4 separate regions of the Homo sapiens genome follow, and regions 1, 3 and 4 are each linked to region 2. The links come from fine-mapping of genetic effects on gene expression. A gene starts in region 2. Each other region holds a variant in brackets. All regions are shown on one strand. Distances are from middle to middle.

Evidence for each region.
Region 1: its variant is fine-mapped to the expression of ECHDC2 in anterior cingulate cortex (GTEx, PIP 0.97). The same link has a PIP of 0.9 or more in cerebellum.
Region 3: its variant is fine-mapped to the expression of ECHDC2 in lymphoblastoid cells (CAP, PIP 0.95).
Region 4: its variant is fine-mapped to the expression of ECHDC2 in whole blood (TOPMed, PIP above 0.99).

The regions. Positions count from the first base shown.
Region 1 is chr1:52,959,883-52,964,882 of GRCh38, forward strand. SCP2 (sterol carrier protein 2) reads left to right here. Exons shown (of 16, transcript NM_002979.5): 6 at 1,621-1,747. Among named protein-coding and RNA genes, the nearest start is that of SCP2, 35 kb to the left of the region's middle. The variant A/T (reference allele first, on the strand shown) is at 3,008.
Region 2 is chr1:52,918,826-52,923,994 of GRCh38, forward strand. ECHDC2 (enoyl-CoA hydratase domain containing 2) reads right to left here and starts at 2,915. Exons shown (of 10, transcript NM_001198961.2): 1 at 2,728-2,915. The coding sequence starts at 2,848. It also overlaps the pseudogene LOC112268226. RefSeq lists an enhancer at 2,618-3,300 and silencers at 2,635-2,813, 2,662-2,891.
Region 3 is chr1:53,901,566-53,906,765 of GRCh38, forward strand. DIO1 (iodothyronine deiodinase 1) reads left to right here. Exons shown (of 4, transcript NM_000792.7): 2 at 3,101-3,244; 3 at 4,530-4,729. It overlaps LOC124904180 (a long non-coding RNA gene), which reads right to left and starts at 5,133. Exons shown (of 2, transcript XR_007066095.1): 1 at 4,846-5,133. The variant A/T (reference allele first, on the strand shown) is at 3,026.
Region 4 is chr1:52,773,632-52,778,832 of GRCh38, forward strand. All of the region lies in intron 3 of ZYG11B (zyg-11 family member B, cell cycle regulator), which reads left to right. Among named protein-coding and RNA genes, the nearest start is that of ZYG11B, 50 kb to the left of the region's middle. The variant A/C (reference allele first, on the strand shown) is at 3,256.

The sequences.
Region 1 (5,000 bases), 41 kb after region 2:
CTGATTTTCAATTTTTTTTTTTTTTTTGAGACAGAGTCTCACTCTGCCGCCCAGGCTGGAGTGCAATGGCATGATCTCAGCTCACTGCAACCTCTGCCTCCCGGGTTCAAGCAATTCTCCTGCTTCAGCCTCCTGAGTAGCTGGGATTACAGGCGCCTGCCACCACGCCCAGCTAATTTTTTTATTTTTAGTAGCGACGGGGTTTCACCACGTTGGCCAGGCTGGCCTCAAACTCCTGACCTCGTGATCCGCCCGCCTGGCCTCCCAAATTGCTGGGATTACAGGTATGAGCCATGGCGCCTGGCCTATATTCTTTTTTCTAGTTTATTCTACTCACTTCTACTCATTCTTTTTCATTCTGCTCATTTTCTATTTCAATCTGCTCTCATTCTTGATGTTTCCTTTCTTCTCCTTACTTTGGGTTTAATTTATTCTTTATTTTAAATTAGCCACGCCCAGCTAATTTTTTGCAGAGACGGAATCTTGCTATGTTGCCCATGCTGGTCTCGAACTCCTGGGCTCAGGTGGGCCTTCCACCTGGGCCTGCCAAAGTGTTGGGATTACAGGCATGACCCACCATGCCTGGCTACTATGTATATGTGTGTGTGTGTGTGTGTGTGTGTGTGTGTGTGTGTGTATATGTGTGTATATATATGTATGTATATACATGTGTATATATGTATGTATATATATGTATATATGTATGTATATGTATATATGTATGTATATATGTATATATGTATGTATATATGTGTATATATGTATGTATATATGTGTATATATATGTATGTGTATATATATGTATATATGTGTGTTGTGTGTATATATTATGTGCGTGTGTGTGTGTGTGTGTGTGTGTGTATATTTATTTATTTATTCATTCCCAAGACAGAGTCTCACTCTGTCGCCCAGGCTGGAGTGCAGTAGTGGTGTGATCTCGGCTCACTGCAATCTTCACCTCCTGGGTTCAAGCAGTTCTCCCACCTCAGCCTCCCGAATAGCTGGGACTGTAGGTGCATACCACCACACCTGGCTAATTTATGTATTTTTAGTAGAGATAGGGTTCACCATGTTGGCCAGGCTGGTCTTGAACTCCTGAGCTCAAGTGATCCACCCGTCTCAGCCTCCCAAAGTGCTGGGATTACAGGTGTGAGCCACCACGCCCAGCCTATTTCCTTTGGTTCTTTTTTTTTTTTTTTTTTTTTTTAATTATACTTTAAGTTCTAGGGTACATGTGCACAACGTGCAGGTTTGTTACATACGTATGCATGTGCCATGTTGGTGTGCTGCATCCATTAACTTGTCATTTACATTAGGTATATCTCCTAATGCTATCCCTCCCCCCAACCCCCACCCCACAACAGGATGGAATAGTTACTGGCACATACTGGATGCCCAATAAATATTTCTTGAAAGAGTTAATACCTCTTTGGTCACTTGATTATTTTTTCTTCTTCCCATGTTTCCCTGTGGAGCATGTCTTAACTGATTTGATTCACATTGACAATTTCTGGTGTACTATGTGCTTAGAATAAATAAATATCTTAATAGCACTGTAGTAGTTTTGAAAGAGACACTTATCATGTCAGCTGCTTATGAAATTTTGTTCCCCCCTCTTAGTTTTCAGATAGAACCATTCCCACTGATAAGCATGTTGACCTCCTGATCAATAAGTATGGATTGTCTGCTCACCCAGTTGCTCCTCAGATGTTTGGGTATGCTGGAAAAGAACATATGGAAAAATATGGTATGTTACAGTTAAAAAACTTTGAGGCTTCTTACTAGTTATATACATGAGATGAGAAATGACAGTTATTTATTAAGGAACTGTGGAGGATGCCAGGATATATAAGATGTAAAATGTTTTTTGAATTAAATCGAAGTAATAGTTCTTGTAGAACTTAGTCATAGAGAAAGTATTTATATATAGACTATGGTATGGGAAGTACCTAGAGTACTCTATAGCAGGAAGTTGAAATAGGAAAAATAACACAAATCTTGTCTCCTTTAATCATGGACTATAAATTATTTTTTTCCAAGCTGAGGGTTTCACTCTGTTATGCAGGTTGGGTGCAGTGGTGCGATCTCGGCTCACTGCAACTTCCATCTCCCAGGCTCAAGCGATCCTTCCACCCCAGCCTCTCGAATAGCTGGGACTACAGATGTGCACCACCATGTTCGGCTAATTTTTTGTATTTTTGGTAGAGGTGGCTTTTTGCCATGTTGCCCAGGCTGGTCTCAAACTCTGAGCTCAAGTGATCCACCTGTCTCAGCCTCCCAAAGTGTTGGGATTACAGGCGTGAGCCACCATGACTGGCCATGGACTATAAATTGAGGATCTTAAAATGTCAACCAAGAAGAGGTGAAAGATCAAGCTATTCATACTCTACATTCAATATATCAGCAAGCCTTTTCTCTATATTCTCAGTCTATCCATTTCTCACCATTTCTGCTACTTTTGCTGTAGTGGCATAATTTCGCACCTGAAATTTAGGAGTGTTCTAACTGGTTTCTCTACTTCTGCTTGTGCACCTCCAGAGTCAATTCTCTACTTTATAGCCAGAGCCATGCTTTTAAAATATATCAGATCATTTCACTCCTGTGCTTAAAATTCTCCATTGTTTCTCATGACATTCAGATTGAAACCCAAATGTCTTCTTATGGCCTATGAGCTTCTACATGATCATTCCCTTCACCCTCATTAGCTCTCTGACTGTATCTCCGACCATTTTTTCTTTCACTAGTCTGCTCCAACCACACTATCCTTTCTTTCTGTTCCTCAAACACACCAAGCTTTTCTTCAGGTAGGGCCTTAGCTTCTACCCTAAGATTGTCAGAGCCAGCTCCCTTGCTTCCATCAGGTCTTTGCTTAAAAGCCACCTTCTGCTTTCTTTCATCACTCTCCTTCCCAGAACTTCCTATTCACTATCTCCTGCTTTATCATTTTATATGGCACCTATAATAATCTGACATATATCTGACACATACATATATGTCAGATTATTAC[A/T]GGTGCCATATAACATGATATATATATATATATTCTTGTTTATTGACTCTTCCAACCAGAATATAAGTTCAACAAAAGCATGGATTTTTATTTGTCTTATTTCCTGCACATTGATTGTTAACCTAGAATAGTACCTGGCTAAACCAAGGATAAAAGAAAAAAAAAAAAAAGAATAGTGCCTGGCACAAATCAGTGTTGTGTAATTAATTCATCTTTAAAATTTAGAAAGACCCTCCATGACTATTCAAATCAAAGTAGTCCCCTCCTGTTATCCTCTTTCTTAGATAGCTTCATATTGCTTCCTTCATAGCACTTAGCACTATTTATGTTCATATATTTATCATATGTGATTTTACTTGTTTAATTTTCATCTTCCTTATTAGTCTATAAACTCCACGAAAGCAGGTCCATGTCTGCTTTGTTTACCTTGATATACACAGCCAAGCACAGAGCTTGGCATGTTATTTAACCAGAAAGAAGTTTTTTTTTTTTCTTTCTCTTCTATAGTCTGCAGCATATTTAAATACTCAAGAAACATTTATTGAATGAAGGAGTGAATTTCCATATGTATGTTATCTTATTCAGCTATCACAAGAATCCATTATCGGAGGTGTTATTATCTCATTTTATACCAGAAGAATCTGATATTCAGACAAGTTTTTGACCAGGATGATAGGGTCAATAAGTAGCAGAGCCTATGTTCCATTCTATTTCTGTCTCACTCAAAAGCCCTTGCGCAGCCCTTTCTCCCAGTAATAGTAGCTGCTCTTTGTTGCGTGCCTCACACATCTTAGATATTTTACACACCAAATATAACAACTATTTTAAGAGGTAAGTGTATGCCTATTTTTCATATGAGGAACCTGAAGCTTGGAGAATTTGAGTAACTTCTTCTAATAGGTGATAGGAGAGGGTTTCACACCCAAATCTGCCATACTATAAAACCTCCATTCTTTTCATTGTTTCTCATATAGCTATATTTAATTTTAAATAATAAAAAGCTTTTACTGTATATTAACTTTTAGTTTTCTTGTCATTCCTGTACATAGTTGAGGGACATTAAGTACTTTTTGTTAGCATTTATTATAGGTACAGAAACATGTTTTGCTTGAAATTTTCATTTGTGCTTGGCTTTCCTTTTTTCTTTTTTGACCTATTTTGTGAAGGGGAAGGAAAACTGAATATTGTAATAGCATTTTTGTTTAAAAATCATAAATATTTTAAATTACTTAATTAGATAATGAATGTGGCCAGATTATAATTTGAAATTAAATTTGTTTATGGTTGTCATTTGAAAGGTTTGTCAAATTTTTTTCTTTTCTCTCTTTTTTTTTTTTTTTTTGAGACAGAGTCTCGCTCTGGAGTGCAGTGGCATGATCTTGGCTCACTGCAAGCTCCGCCTCCTGGGTTCACGCCATTCTTCTGCCTCAGCCTCCCGAGTAGCTGGGACTATAGGCACCCGACCACCACACATGGCATTTTTTGTATTTTTAGTAGAGACGGGGTTTCACCATGTTAGCCGGGATGGTCTCAATCTCCTGACCTCGTGATCCGCCCAACTCAGCCTCCCAAAGTGCTGGGATTACAGGTGTGAGCCACCGTGCCTGGCCCAGGTTTGTCGATTTTAAAAGATGATATGCTTCATTTTTAGAGGTATATTGTAATATACTTTAAAAATATTTTGTTTAGAAGTAATTTCAGACTGAACAAGAATGTTGCCAAAATAGTACAAGAATTCCTAATACTTTTCCTCTAGATTTTCTAAAAATTAACATTTTGCCATGCTTGTTGTTTTAATGAATTCTTTTTACCTATATTGCTATGTAATTTTTAAAAAATGTAAGGCTGGGTGCTGTGGCTCACGCCTGTAATCCCAGCACTTTGGGAGGCCAAGGCGGACGGATCCTGAGGTCAGGAGTTCAAGACCAGCCTGGCCAACATGGTGAAACCCCGTCTCTACTAAAAATACAAAAAATTAGCCGAGCCTGGTAGT
Region 2 (5,169 bases):
ACAGTAATGTCCTAGGCCAGGGGTCCCCAACCCCCGGGCTGTGGACCCATCCCAGTCTGTGGCCTGCTAGGAACTGGGCCACACAACAGGAGATGAGCAGCTTCATCTGTATTTACAGCAGCTCCCCATGGCTTGAATTACCACCTGAGTTCCACCTCCTATCAGATCAGTGGTGGCATTAGAATCTCATAGGAGTGCGAACCCTATTGTGAACTGTGCATGTGAGGAATCTAGGTTGTTGCGAGCTCCTTATGAGAATCTAATGCCTGATGATCTGAGGTGGAACAGTTTCATCCCCAAACCATCTGTCCGCCCGCAAGTCCATGGAAAAACTGTCTTTCATGAAAATAGTCCCTGGTGCCAAACCAGTCCCTGCTGTCCTAGGCCTTCACATTCACTCACCATTCACTCGCTGACTCACCCAGTGCAGCTTCCAGTCCTGCAAGCTCCATTTATGGTAACTGCCCAGTACAGGTGTACTATTTAAAAAATCTTTTAGACTGTATTTTTACTGTGCCTTTTCTATGTTCAGATACACATTTACCATTGTGTTACAGTTGCCTACAGTATTCAGCCCGGTACCATGCTGTCCAGGTTTGTATTCTAGGAGCAACAGGCTATACACCATGTAGCCTTGGTGTGCAGTAGGCTACCCCATCTAGGACTGTGTAGGTGCACTCTGTGATGCTCCCACAATGACCACAATCACCTAATGATGCATTTCTCAGAATGTAGCCCCGTTGTTAAGCAACACATGACTCTATGAGAAATAAAGCCGCTAAGAACAGTGAAGAATGGTTTACCACCCAACCTCAAGCTCAAAGGCAGCAGGTAAAATGTAACAGTGCTCTTGTGCCATCAGCCCCAGTGGAAGGCAGAACCTGCAGCTTCTAATATGAACATCAAATGACCCCAACTCATTCCCTGTGAGGGCTCCGTGTGTGATCTCATCCCCATGCCTCCTCTGCACTGTCATCTTGGTTTCTGTCTCTCCTTCTCTCACTGCCTTTTCCTGCCCTTTGAGCCCTCTGGCAGGGGCAGAGGCTTAATCTGCTGATCCTTGTCATTCTTTTTTGGATAAAATGATTCCCGATATTTGCAAGTGAGCCTAAAGGTCTTTAACCCATGATAATTTTGTGTTTACACATGTACAAGTCTGTATTTTGAGTCACTGAATTACTAGAAGAGCCAGTGATTACCTAATGGTTGAGAACACAGGCTTTGAAATCAGACCTGGTTCAAATAACTTAACCTTCTGTGCCTCAGTTTTTTAATCTGTAAAGTGGGGAGAATAATCTTGACTGTCTTAAGAGCTGTTGCCAGTTGGGTAGTGAACTAAGCATGAGATTGGGGGTATAAGGTTCAGCAATATTAACTGTTCAAGGAAATTCTCACCAAGTGGTGCAGTGGGACTCTAGGTGGCCTGTCCGTGTCCACTGAAGGTGGTAGATGCACACTTGGGAACAGTGGGCAACAGCAGGGAGCAAGGAACTGGATTTTATGGCAAAGCCCCGCTTCAAACTTGTTGTCAAGCCGGTAAAAAGGAAGCAATACTGCTGGGGAAGGGGCGGCAGGCGCCATGTCCGGCCACGAAGGTGGCAAGAAGCCACTGAAACAGCCCAAGAATGCAGGCCAAGGAGATGGACGAGGAAGATAAGGCTTTCAAGCAGAAACAAAAAGAGGAGCAGAAGAAACTCGAGGAGCTAAAATGGAAGGCCACGGGGAAGGGGCCCTTGGCCACAAGTGGAATTAAGAAATCTGGCAAAAAGTAAGCTGTTCCCTGTGCCTAAGGAGATGGTGACCCTTTATTTCATCAGTATTTAAACCTCTCTATTCCCTGCCATAACATCTTTTGCCACCTATGGCTGGAATTAAGTGTTGTCTTGGAGCTGTTGTACATTTAAGAATAAACTTTTGTTAAAAAAAAAAAAGAAGCAATACAACGAAATGTACAGTACAATGCCATCTGTGTATCAAATGCAGGAGACAGGGGATGAGATGCGGGGAGGAGACCCAAGGCAGGAGAAGCGCCTAGCCCTGATGGTTACCAGCAGAGGACTGAGGAGCGTTATCAGCACCACTGAATGCTCCAGAAGTTCAAACAACAACAACAACAAAAACGCAACACGCGATCAGAGGCGTTTTCTGCCAGTGACCCGCGAACTTTGCCCCCCACCCCTCGTCCCCGCTCCATACTATCCTTGATCTTGGCCAAAAGGCGGAGAAACAGCGAACTTTTCCCTGGAGCCAGAAGGACGCAAAGGTTCGCTAGCGGCCCAGGGCGGGCGCGCGGCTGGAGAGGCACCCTCCTCACTCTGCCCGCTGCCGCACTGGGCACTGGGACTGGCTCCGCTGCCTCCGCCCCCGAACCGGGCCAGGACCCTTGGCGGGGGAGGGGAACGCGCACTTAAACGCTCCTGGCCTGGGGGCCGCGGGGCCCAGTCCTACCCGTGCGGACCCCGCTCCCCCTTCCACACAGTCGGAAGACCCCAAAGGGCCTTTGAAGAGACCGAGGTTGCCAGAGGCCCCCCGCCCCCAGCTAGAGTCTGGAGCCACTAAGGCGGCCGCCCACCTCTCAGGCCTGGAGCGGTTTGGGGCGCCTAGAACTGGGAGGGAGGGACTGGGGATCGAATCCTTCAACGCACTGAGCGGCCCACCTGCCGGTCCCCCGCTGCCTCCGGCCTAGTCCCAGTCGCGTCATGCGCCGCCCCGGAACTGCACATTTACCTTGGTCCGGACCCGCCAGGGCGCGCACTTGGATCTCTGAGCCCCCGGCCGCCCCGTCGGAAGCGCAGCCGCGGGCCCGAAGGGGCCTCCAGGGGCGCAGGAGGCACAGAACGCGCAGCATCGGGGCGCAGGCTGGGAGTGAAGGTGCTTCTCCGGCCCTGCACCGTCTCGGCTCCCGCTGAGAGCTCGCAGTTCCGGCGTCGGGCGAAGCCTTCGCCAATTGCTCCACCTATGGGCCAAGCGTCTGTTGCCTCCTTCCGCACCTCCCGGGGACAGGGAGACTTGAGCGGAGGAGGTCGGGGGAAGCCCAGCTCCTCTGTGTGATTTGGTGTAACTCTGTCAACCTCCCAGCGTCAGTGTTTTAATCCTGTAAAATGGGGATAATAGTGACTACCCCGTGGTGGTGTGAAGATTAAATGGGGTGTGTGAACCTTGCTTGCACATATGCTCAATTTCATTTTTTAAATGAAATGACATTTAATGAGTCCCTTGAGCGTGTCTACACTTGCGAACCTCACTGCTTCACCTCCCATTTGCGCCTCACTTTTTTTTTTTTTTTTTTTTTTTGAGACGGAGTCTCGCTGTGTCGCCCAGGTTGGAGTGCTGTGCCTTGATCTTGGCTCACTGTAACCTCCGCCTCCGGGTTCAAGCGATTCTCCTGCCTCAACCTCCCAAGTAGCTGGGATTACAGGGACGCGCCACCACGCCCAACTAATTTTTTTTGTATTTTTAGTAGAGGCAGGGTTTCACCATGACGAAACCCTGTCTCTGTTAAACATTCAAAAAAATTAGCTGGGCGTGGTGGCGGGCGCCTGTAATCCCAGCTACTTGGGAGGCTGAGGCAGGAGAATCACTTGAACTCGGAAGGCACAGGTTCAGTGAGCTGAGATCGCGCCACTGCACTCCAGGCTGGGCAATGAGCGAAACTGCGTCCCAAAAAAAAAAATTATTCTCTTAAACACAGTATATACAAAGCACTCTCACATTGCTGATGTGAATGTCTTTAAATGAAAAGCAACTGGTAATTTATATCAAAATTATAAATGCACAAGCTCATTGCCCCAGAAATTCCAATTTTAGAAATTTAACCTACAGATAAATCCACACAGCTGTGAAATGACACGTGTTCATGGCTGTACATTGCAGCATTGTTTATAATAGCAAAAGACTGGAAGCACATGGTGCTGTCATGTGCTTCTGGTGAGGCCTCAGGAAGCTTACAATCATGGCTGAAGGTGACAGGGATCCAGCATGTCACATGGCGAGAATAGGAACAAGAAAATTAGGTGGGGAGGTCCCAGTTTATCGCCAAGGGGATGGTGCTAAACCATTCACAAGGGATCTGTCCCCATGATCCAGTCACCTCCCAACAGGGCCCACCTCCAACATTGGGAATCATATTTCAACGTGAGATTTGGAGGGATCCAACACCCAAACTATATCACAGTCTCAATATCCATCAATAGAGGGTTGGTTAAATAAATTATGGGGCTGTGTGTGGTGGCTCACCCTATTATTCCAACACTTTGGAAGGCCAAGGCAGGTAGGTCCCTGGAAGCCAGGAGTTTGAAACCAGCCTGGGAAATATAGCAAGCCCCTATCTCTACTTAAAAAAAAAAAAAAGGTACATCAATAATCTGAATACTATGCAGCTATAACAAAACACAGGAAACTGTTTATGCATTGATATGAAACAATCTTCAAAATCTATTGGTATATGAAACAAGTCAAAATGCAGAATAGTGTGTAAAGAAAGCTAAAATTTGGCCGGGTCTGGTGGCTCATGCTCATGAACCTAGCACTTTGGGAGGCCGAGACAGGAGGATTGCTTGAGGCCAGGAGTTCAAGACCAACCTAGCCAACATAGCAAAACCCCACCTCTATTGAAAGAAATAATAAAGAAAACAAAAATTTGTGTTAACAAGGGGGATAAGAGTATGCATGTGTATATTTGATTGTATTTACATAAAACATCTTTGGAAGGATAGGGAAGAAGAACCGAGAGGCTGGGAATAAGGGTAAGAGAGACAAGTTTTACGGTTTGACCTGTTATACGTTTTTGGACACAGGATGTTGTTGTTGCCCAGATTGGAGTGCAGTGGCAGTATCTTGGCTCACTGCAGCTTCTGCCTCCCGGGCTCAGGTGATCCTTCCACCTCACCCTCCTGAGTAGCTGGGACCACAGGTACATGCCACAACATTGGCTAATTTTTGTATTTCTTGTAGAGACGGGGTTTTGCCATGTTGCCAAGGTTGGTCTCGAACTCCTGAGCTCAGGCGATTTGTCCACCTTGGCCTTCCAAAGTGCTGGGATTACAGGTGTGAACCACCATGCCTGGCCCCTTTTATACTTTTTGAATCTTGATTTTTGTTTTAAGTATAACTTACTCAAAATAAATAATGAAAATGAAAACAAAGCACAATAACAAAAATTAAAAACAT
Region 3 (5,200 bases), 980 kb after region 2:
GCCCAGCTGGGGTCACTGCCTGAGCCCTGGCTGCCAGGGGCAGAGTGCGAACCTGGCCCTTCTGTCTTCCAAAGAGCAAGGCTGGGCACACTGTTTCATAAATAGAATACAAAATAGGGAATTCTAAGTAGGAAGGAGAGTTAGGAGTTGGGCAGCCAAAACTGCAACAAACAAGTCAGATATAGTCAAGTGCACCTATAGTTCCAGCTACTCAGAAGGCTGAGGCAGGAGGATCACTTGAGCCCAGAAGTTCAAGGCTGTAGTGTATTATGATGGCACCTGTGAATAGCCACTGCATTCCAGTCTGGGCAACATAACAAGATCTCATCTCTCAAAAAAAAAAAAAAATGAAAAAGAAAATATGCAATAATATTCACCACCCTTGCTTTATATTCCTATGATAGCCCACATACCTAGGATAAAATCCAGATTCTTTACAAAGGCTTATGGGAGCCTGCCTGCTCTGGTCCATCCCTAACACTCCAACCCTTCTCTTGTTGCTCTCTATGCCGGGTTCCTGCCAGTGGTTTTGTGGGGCCTTGAACACACCAAGTTCTCTCCCTCCTTGGGGACTCTGTGTGAGTCTCTTTGGCTAGAATCCCTTTCTCCCTTTTCCCATGGCTGGTTCTCTCCTGTTTTTCATTTCTCAGGTTAAATGGCAGCTCCTCAAAGGCCTTCCCTGCCCCGCCTGTCTAAAATAGGTAACTCCTTTATAGCCTCTCTCGTAACACTGATCACAATTTGAAACTTCTTCATTTACGCATTTACTTACTTTTTTTTGCCTGTCTCCCCACTAAGCAGACTTCAAACTGCACACAGCCAGAGAGCTGCTGGTCTCATTCTCTGCCGAATCCCCAGTGTGTGGCAGGGAGACTTGCATATTTTAAGTGCTGAATAAATATTTGTAGATAGGATGAGAGTATACTACATTCTGGAGATTCGAGGATGAATGAGGAACAGGCCCTGCCCTCAGGGGACAATGAGTAGGGGGGTTTGGGGGTATGTGGACACTTAAACAGGCCATGTCACAGTGCAAGACTAGCCATGCTCCAATAAATGTATGGTAAGGGCTCAACAATGTCAGCTCTGGCCGTAAGAAACCACAGGAGGCCAGCTGCTCCCCAGAGTTGTCCTTGGTCTAGGATGGGGAGTTACAGAAGGCTTCCACCCAGGGCTGGCTTCATGGACATGGGACCAGTGAATCACACAGGGACCTACACTCAAAAGGGCCTTGTCCTTGGGATTTAATGTTCTGCAGCAGCTGTCTTGAATTTTTGTTGCTGTTGTTGTTTTTAGCACACCAGAGTTGTAAAGTATGTCTTGAAATTCTTCATAATTTTATCTTTGAATCTGCATTTTGTAAGTGAAACCCTACGGGACAATGGAGCATGCCCTGAGGACTTGGAGCCTCTGCTTGCACAGGCTCCTGCCTTCCACAGCCTCCCTGCCCCTCCAGGACATGTTCTCTAAGGCCCACTCTCCCATCCCCAGGTGCTCCTTCCTGCTTCCACCCAGTGACTGCTGCCATCTCCTGACCCCAGAGTGGGCCTGGATACAGACATGAGGAAGGTGGGGGTCAGGTGTCACGTCCCCCAGTGTTGCATGGCAGCTGTCCCCATCCCGGGCTCGCAGTGCCATAGTGCAATTCGCCAAGTGACTGAGGGTGGGGGAAGCCTCTTGCCCACCCTTTCCCCCATCAAGGTACCTAGTATGTTCCTTACAGAGGTTGCAATACCCTGTGGGTTGGGGTGGTGGGCAGGTGGGAAGGGGCCATGTCTGGCTCAACTTCTGTGATGCTGGGCGGGGCATGGCATGTTGGTCTGGTGGCTGGAGGGAAAGGGAAATGCACACACACTCGGTCTCTGGGGTGCTGGGTAGCTGTGAGGATCTGCTCTCACTCTATGAATACCCCAGGGGAGTATGACATCAAATAGCAACTAAAAGACACGATGCCAGGTCAAGAGAGGGACTACAGAAGATTAGAAATGTCTTTGTATTTCAGGCTGGGCACGGTGGCTCAGGCCTGTAATCGCAGCACTTTGGGAGGCCGAGGCCGGCGGATCACTTGAGGTCAGGAGTCTGAGACCAGCCTGGCCAACATAGTGAAACCCCGTCTCTACTAAAAATACAAAAATTAGCCAGGTGTGGTGGTGTGCACCTGGAGTCCCAGCTACTCAGGAGGCTGAGGCAGGAGAATCGCTTGAACCCCGGAGGCGGAGTTTGCAGTGAGCTGAGATCACACCACTGCACTCCAGCCTGGGTGAGACTCCATCTCAAAAAAATAAAAAAGAAACGTCTTTATATTTTAATAAATTTAATGGCACTTTCCCCCACTTTTTGAACAAGGAACCCTGCATTTTCATTTGGCGGCAGGCCCAGCAAATTATGCAGCTGGTCCTGCTCCTAGCATTCACTCTCTTTGTGGAGCTGCCTTCGGTGCCTCCCTACTTCATAGCTCAGGGAGGAGATACAAGCTCATAGCAACAGCTTATATTTATGAAGCACCTACTATGGGCCAGTAACCAGTTTAAGCCCTTATCTCTATTAATTTATTTAATCCTCCTAACAGTGCTACAAAGGATTATTATGCCCCCCTTGTGGATGAGGAAACTGAAGTGCTATGAATAGAAAGAGCACTGAATTGAGAGTTCAGAAACCAGAATGTTCATTTTAACTCCTCACTGACCTGCTGTGTGACCTGGAGCAAATGTGTAAAACTCAGTTTCTTTGTCTATAAAATGGGGGGAAAAAATGACCAACCTTGCAGTATTACTAATCCCATCGCATGACAGAATGGATGCATACCTGCCTTATAAACTGCATGAAAGGGACTCCTCTTATATTTAAACTGCTATGCGGCAACTGCAGGTGGTCCACTGAGACCACCTAAAAAAACCTCTCATTTTAGAGAGGAGTAAACCAGCTCCAGCCCCTGCTAAGTCATGCTCTCTAGGTGTCGGACCCCAGTGCCTAGGACCCATCCTGGGGTGGGGGGTAGGGGGAAATAAAAATAACAGAATTGAAC[A/T]TAGGAGTGAAAATGGTGCTTGTAAAAGAAAGCTGTGTGTAGGGTCTCAGTTTGTGATGGTTGTTGCTGTTTCAGGTAATAGGCCACTGGTGCTGAATTTTGGAAGTTGTACCTGACCTTCATTTATGTTCAAATTTGACCAGTTCAAGAGGCTTATTGAAGACTTTAGTTCCATAGCAGATTTTCTTGTCATTTACATTGAAGAAGCACATGCATCAGGTACAGAAAGATTCTCTGCCTCTTCTACCTCTTCCCACTGTCTTTTCTCTCTCCCTTTTCCCCAGGCCCCATCTCAAGGTTGGGAGGTGGAAGGAGGAAGAGGAGGGGAGAGGGAAAGAGCCACTATTCACTGAGCACCCACCACTCCCAGGCCCTGCACTGGGCTAACCTCACAGTCTGTGCTTTCAACCAGGGTACAGAGAGCAGAACACCTGGAGTGACAGGGTCTGGCTAGGAGAGGATTCTAACATTTTGATCGGATAAATAGGGAAGTCAAGGGAGAAGAACTGATTTGAACACATTTACAAAGAATTCAGACCCAAAATGTCACAGGTGAAATGACGGCCTTATGGCTATTTTTTTTTTTTTTTTTTTTTGAGATAGGGTCTTGTTCTGTCGCCTGAGCTGGGGCTGGAATGCAATAGCACTCACATGGCTCACTGCAGCCTCAACCTCCTGGGCTAAATCGATCCTCCTGTCTCAGCCTTCCAAGTAGCTGTACTGCAGGCATACGCCACCATGCCCAGCTAGTTTTTTGTATTTTTTGTAGAAACAGAGTTTCACCATGTTACTCGGGCTGGTCTCAAACTCCTAGGTTCAAACAATCTGCCCACCTCGGCCTCCCAAAGTGCTGGAATTACAGTCGTGAGCCACTGCACCCAGCCTATATTTGTATTTTTGAAAGAACACTGTGGTGAAGAATTAGGAGAAAAAATAGTACTTAAACTCAGTATGAATTAGAATCATCTGGAAGGCTGTTAAAACGCAGATGTCTGGGTCCCATTTCTAGTCCATCCACGCTGACGCCTAGGGTTTGCACTACTTAACAAACTTCCAGGTGACGCTGATGCTGTTAGTCTGGGGACACACACTTAGAGAACTACTGATCTAAACCCTTGCCTCTCCAAGTATGGTCTAGGCGCCAGCAGTCTTGGCATCCTGGGAGTTAGATGGACTCTCAGTTCCACCTTCGACAGACCGAATCAGAATCTTCCTATAACAAGGTCCCCAAATGATTCATGCACATTCAAGATCAAGGAGTGCTGGTTTATTGGACTATTTCACGTTGAAGAGCAGGGGTCTGGCAGACAGAAGCCCTGGGCTTCAGTTCTGGATCAATCACTAATTCCTGACGTGACCTTGCACATTCAACCATAATGGGAAACCAGGCCAAATCATTGCCAAGGGCTCCTCTGAGAACCTCAGTTAAAAGTGAGGGGCTATTTAGTCTGCAGGAAGTGTGTGCTGTGTCAATGGGACTCGGTGCCTGGCCTTTCTCTTGTAGATGGCTGGGCTTTTAAGAACAACATGGACATCAGAAATCACCAGAACCTTCAGGATCGCCTGCAGGCAGCCCATCTACTGCTGGCCAGGAGCCCCCAGTGCCCTGTGGTGGTGGACACCATGCAGAACCAGAGCAGCCAGCTCTACGCAGCACTGCCTGAGAGGCTCTACATAATCCAGGAGGGCAGGATCCTCTACAAGGTGGTGACCTGGGGACAGGGGGCCCAGGGAGGGCAAAGGGGCCCAGGGAGGGCAAGGGCAAAGAGAAGGCTTTGCATCAAGCAGAACTGGATTCAAATCACCACCCAGCCACTTACCAGCCATGTGACCATGGGCGAGTGCTTTCACTTCTTGGAGTTCCTTCAATTTCCTCTTCTGCAAAATGGGAATGTTGGTCTCCACCTCACGGGGGATGAAATAATGCACACGAATGTCCCTAGCATTTGGACTGGAGCTGCATCCTCCCGGCTTCCTTTTGAACCCAGATGATGGCCCAGTCCTGGTCTGGTTTCAAACTCAGAGACAGAGAATGTTGTTTTTGTTCTCTGTTTTTTGGGTTTCTTTCTTTCTTTTTTTTTTTTGAGACAGACTCTCACTCTGTTGCCCAGGCTGGAGTGCAGAGGGGTGACCTTGGCTCACTGCAACCTCCACCTCCCGGGTTCAAGCAATTCT
Region 4 (5,201 bases), 150 kb before region 2:
TTTTTTTTTTTTTTTTTTTTTTTTTTTTTGAGATGGAGTCTCGCTCTGTCGCCCAGGCAGGAGTGCAGTGGTATGATCTTGGCTCACTACAACCTCTGCTTCCCAGGTTCAAGTGATTCTCCTGCCTCAGTCTCCCAAGTAGCTGGGACTATAGGCACACACCACCATGCCCGGCTAAGTTTTTGTATTTTAGTAGAGACAGGGGTTCACCATGTTGCCAAGGCTAGTCTCGAACTCCTGAGCTCAGGCAGTTCGCCTGTCTTGGCCTTCCAAAGTGCTAGGATTACAGGAGTGAGCCACCACCCTCGGCCTGGTTTCTCTGAGAAATTGATGGATGAGTGGAGATCTTAAGGGTGAGTAGCTCAGTAGAGAGCATTCCAGGCAGACAGAATAATACGTGCAAAGACTGCGTTAGGAAGAGAGGTGAGACCCAGGCATCAGTATTTTTTAAAGCTTAGATGATTGCAGTGTCCAGCCAAACTCATGAATCACTGTTTTACAATAACTTTTTTTTTTTTTTTCCTCAGAGGCAGGGTCTTGCCCTGTTACCCAGGCTGGAGTACAGTGGGCATGAACAGGCTCACTGCAGCCTCTACCTCCTGGGCTCGAGTGGATCCTCCTGGCTTAGCCTCCTGAGTAGCTGGGACCACAAGCATGTGCCACCATAACTGGCTAATTTTTTTTTTTTTTTTTTGAGATGGAGTCTAGCTCCGTCACCCAGGCTGGAGTGCAATGGCGTGATCTCGGCTCACAGCAACCTCCACCTCCCAGGTTTTGACGAATTTCCTGCCTCAGCCTCCTGAGTAGCTGGGATTACAGGTGCCTGCTATCATGTCCAGCTAATTTTTGTATTTTTGGTAGAGATGGGGTTTTACCATGTTAGCCAGGCTAGTCTTGAACTCCTGACCCAGGTGATCTGCCTGCCTCGGCCTCCTAAAGTGCTAGGATTACAGGCGTGAGCCACTGTGCCTGGCCTAATTTTTTTTTTTTTTTTTTTTTTTTTTAGTGTTTTTGTAAAGATGGGTTCTTGCTCAGCGATCCTCCCACCTTGGCCTCCTAGTTTTGGGATTATAGGTGTAAGCCCCTGAGCCTAGCCTGGCTTTCTTACCATAGAATTTCCAGCTCTGTCATCAGTATTTCCCCACTCGATTTTCTCTTCTCACTATTTCCCTACTCAGTTTTCTCTTCTGTTACCATCAGTTTCCTGAACCTTCCATTTCTCCAGAACTAGAATTCTTACATTTGTTGGCCACCTTATCCCATACTTGGATTATCTACCATGCTGTAGCTCCCAACTCATGAGAACATTGAAAATCTGCTAAACCCAGTGTTAGTTCTTAGTCTTCATTTTATTTGACCCAAAGTAAAATGGTATTTGTCATAATTGATCTTTGCCTCTTCCTTGAGATACCTTTTTTTTTTTAACTTAGCTTCCAGGATATCATACTTGTCTTGTTTTTTTTTTCCTACTTGTCTTGCTACTAAGCCTCAATTTCCTTTGTTGGTTCTTCCTCATCTTCCAGGCTTCTAACTGTTGGAGAGTTCTGCACCTCAGTCCTTAAATCTATATGCTGATGACTCCTAAATTTGTGTCTTAACTTAGAGCTCTCCCTTGAAGTCAGACTCCTATATTGAACTGCAGTAATCAACATGCAGTGAAGGTACATAAATGTTTTTTGGCCAGGCGTGGTGGCTCATGCCTTTAATCCCAGCACTTTGGGAGGCCGAGGTGGGAGGATTGCTTGAGCTCAGGAGTTCAAGACTAGCCTGAGCAACATAGTGAGACCCCCATCTGACACCTGTAATCCCAGCACTTTGGGAGGCCAAGGCGGGCGGATCACTTGAGGTCAGGAGTTCAAGACCAGCCTGGCCAACGTGGTGAAACCCCGTCTCTACTAAAAATACAAAAATTAGCCAGGCATGGTGGCACATGCCTGTAATCCCATCTATTCAGGAGGCTGAGGCAGGAGAATTGCTTGAACCTGGGAGGCGGAGGTTATAGTGAGCCAGCATTGTGGCACTGCACTCCAGCCTGGGCGATAGAGTGGGTCTGTGTCTCAAAAACAAAAAAACAACAACAAAAAGATATCTGTTAATATCCCTGCTCTTGAGGAATTCTAGTCTAGTGGAGAAGATACAGACTAATTTAAAAATAGCTTTAGTCGGCCAGGCGTGGTGGCTCACGCCTGTAATCCCAGCACTTTGGGAGAAAAAAGAATATACTTATAATTTGAGCAGCCAGATGTGAGGGTTTGTCACTGGGTAGAGAAGTGTTGTTCACTGAATAAAACATAGAGGCAATGTCTGGATGCAGTGGCTCACGCCTGTAATCCCAGTGCTTTGGGAGGCTGAGGCAGGCGGATCACCTGATGTCAGGAGTTGGAGACCAGCCTGACGAACATGGAGAAACCCCGCCTCTACTAAAAATCCCAAAAAAATTAGCCGGGCGTGGTGGCGCATGCCTGTAATCCCAGCTACTTAGGAGGCTGAGGCAGGAGAATTGCTTGAACCCAGGAGGTGGAGGTTGTGGTGAACCAAGATGGCGCCATTGATTTCCTGCCTGAACAACAAGAGCAAAACTCTGTCTTAAAAAAAAAAATATATATATATATATGCAATAAAGTTGGCTTAGAGCACGCCTATAATCCCAGCACTTTGGGAGGCCAAGACATGCGGATCACTTGAGGCCAAGAGTTGGAGACCAGCCTAGCCAACATGATGAAACCTTGCCTCTACTAAAAATACAAAAAAATTTAGCCGGGCATGGTGACAGATGCCTGTTGTCCCAGTTACTTAGGAGGCTGAGGCAGGAGAATCACTTGAACCTGGGAGGTGGAGGTTGCAGTGAGCCAAGATTGTGCCACTGCACTCCAGACTGAGCAATAGAGAAAGACTGTGTCTCAAAAAAAAAAAAAAAAAAATTGGCTTAGAGTCTTTAACATTCCAGTAACAAGAGTTCTTTAATTTTATATTCAAGGTAACTTGAGGATATATTTCGTATAAGAGATTTATAAAGCTGTTGGAACCAACCAAATGTGGGTAAAGGAAGAATAAAGTCTGATTTAGATTATTTTATATTTCCCTCTTAGAGTTTTTTTCATTTCACATTTCAGCATTTTTTGTTTTTTTCTGAATTTATAAGAAAAAGTTCTGGGTGATTCAATGAACTGAACACTTTGAAAAATTTTATTAAATACCCATTTGTATATGTGAATATGTAGTCCAAACCAGTTTGTGTATGTATGTTATACATAA[A/C]TAGAAAGTTTAAAAAGGGTTTAAAGAAGTAAAGTAATGGAGGCTGGAAGTGGTGGCTCATGCCTGTAATCCCAGCACTTTAGGAGGCCGAGGTTGGCTGATCATTTGAGGTCAGGAGTTCGAGACCAGCCTGGCCAACATGACGAAATCCCGTCTCTACTAAAAATACAAAAATTAGCCGGGCGTGGTGGCGGGCGCCTGTAATCCCAGCTACTCAGGAGGCTGAGGCATGACAATTGCTTGAACCCGGGAAGTAGAGGTTGCAGTGAGCCGAGATCGTGCCACTGCACTCCAGTCTGGGCGACAGAGCAAGACCGTATCTCAAAAAAAAGGAAAAAAAAGAGAAAAGACGTAAAGTAATGGAAGTAAAGAAACTTTTATTATTATTTCAACAATCTTAGAAATTCTTCATATGTACCCTTGTGTCATGTGACATATATCAATACTGTAGTCTAATTCATTTCAGACTCTTGTAGCATATCCTATTAATGGTTGAAATGTCAACCATGATACATCCCTTCATTTCCTCAAAGCTGCATATTCCAATCTGAACGTTTATAGGCTTTTTTGTTTTTTTTGATAGAGTCTCACTCTGTTGCGCATCATGGAGTGCTGTGGCACAGTCATGGCTTACTGCAGCCTCAAATTCGTGGGCTCAAGCAGTCCTCTTCAGTCTCCCAAGTAGCTGGGACTACAGGCATGCACCATCACACGTAACTAATTTTTCTTTTCTTTTATAGAGACAGGGTCTTACTATGTTCCCCAGGCTGGTTTTGAACTCCTGGGCTCAAGTGATCCTCCTGCTTCTACCTCCCAAAGTGCTGGGATTACAGGCATGAGCCATCATGCCTGGCTGAATATTATATGTTTATATACAACTTAGTTACTGAGTAATATATTTTTAAAATATTTGATTACTTTTGTGTCACACTGTATAATGTTACTGCCAAAAAAGACTAAATCTTCCCCTTATTATGAGATAGTCGCTCTGAATGACGTTTTTTGGCATTTTTTAAAACTTTATTGTAAAATAAAACAGAGACAAAGGCAGTAAATAATTATATAGCTTAATGAGTTGAAAATAAAGTGAACACACTTGAGACCATCACTCAGGTTAAGTAACAGAACTTTGTCATCTACCCCAAAGCTCGCTTCAGCCTCCCAAAGTGGTGGGATTACAGGCGCGAGCCACTACACCCAACCATGTCCTTTCATTTCTTTATAATTTTATGACCCAACTATTTAGGCACCTGTATAATCTTGTCTGTTTAAAACAATTTGATGTCTTTTGAGTATCTTTTAGTTTATAGGTTTCTCCTCATCCCTTTCTTTTCCTTATAATTTGTTTATTGAATAATCTATCGTTTGGATTTGTAGAGTTTCCCTCAGTCTGGATTTTATTGTATTTGTTGATGTTTTGTAGAGACAGGGTCTTGCTGTGTTGCCCAGGCTGGTCTGGAACTCCTGGGGTTAAAGTGATGCTCCTGCCTCAGCCTCCGAAAGTGCTGGGATTACAGATATAAGCCACTCTGCCAGCCTGGATTTTGCTGATTGTATACTAATGGTGCATCTTTCTCTTTGTATTTTCTGCAAATTGGTAGCTGGATTTGGAGGCTTAATTAGACTTACGTTAGATCCCTTTGGCCAGACCCTTAGGTGTTGTATTCTTACGTTATGAGGTACATAAATATCTAGTTGTTTCTCTTTCTGTGATGTTAGCAGTTATTGACACTTAGTAGCTAGATCTATCAATTCATTGGGGATTATGGTGATATTTTAATCATTTATTTTTCACTTACTAGTTGGATTACTTTTATAAAGAGCCACTTTCTGCTACCTACGTTTGGTTGCCGAATGGCACCTGAACTACATTTTAAGATAAGCGTATTATCTTAAAATAATATACTTTTATGTTGGGAATCCCTAGAAAGACTTAATTTTAAACA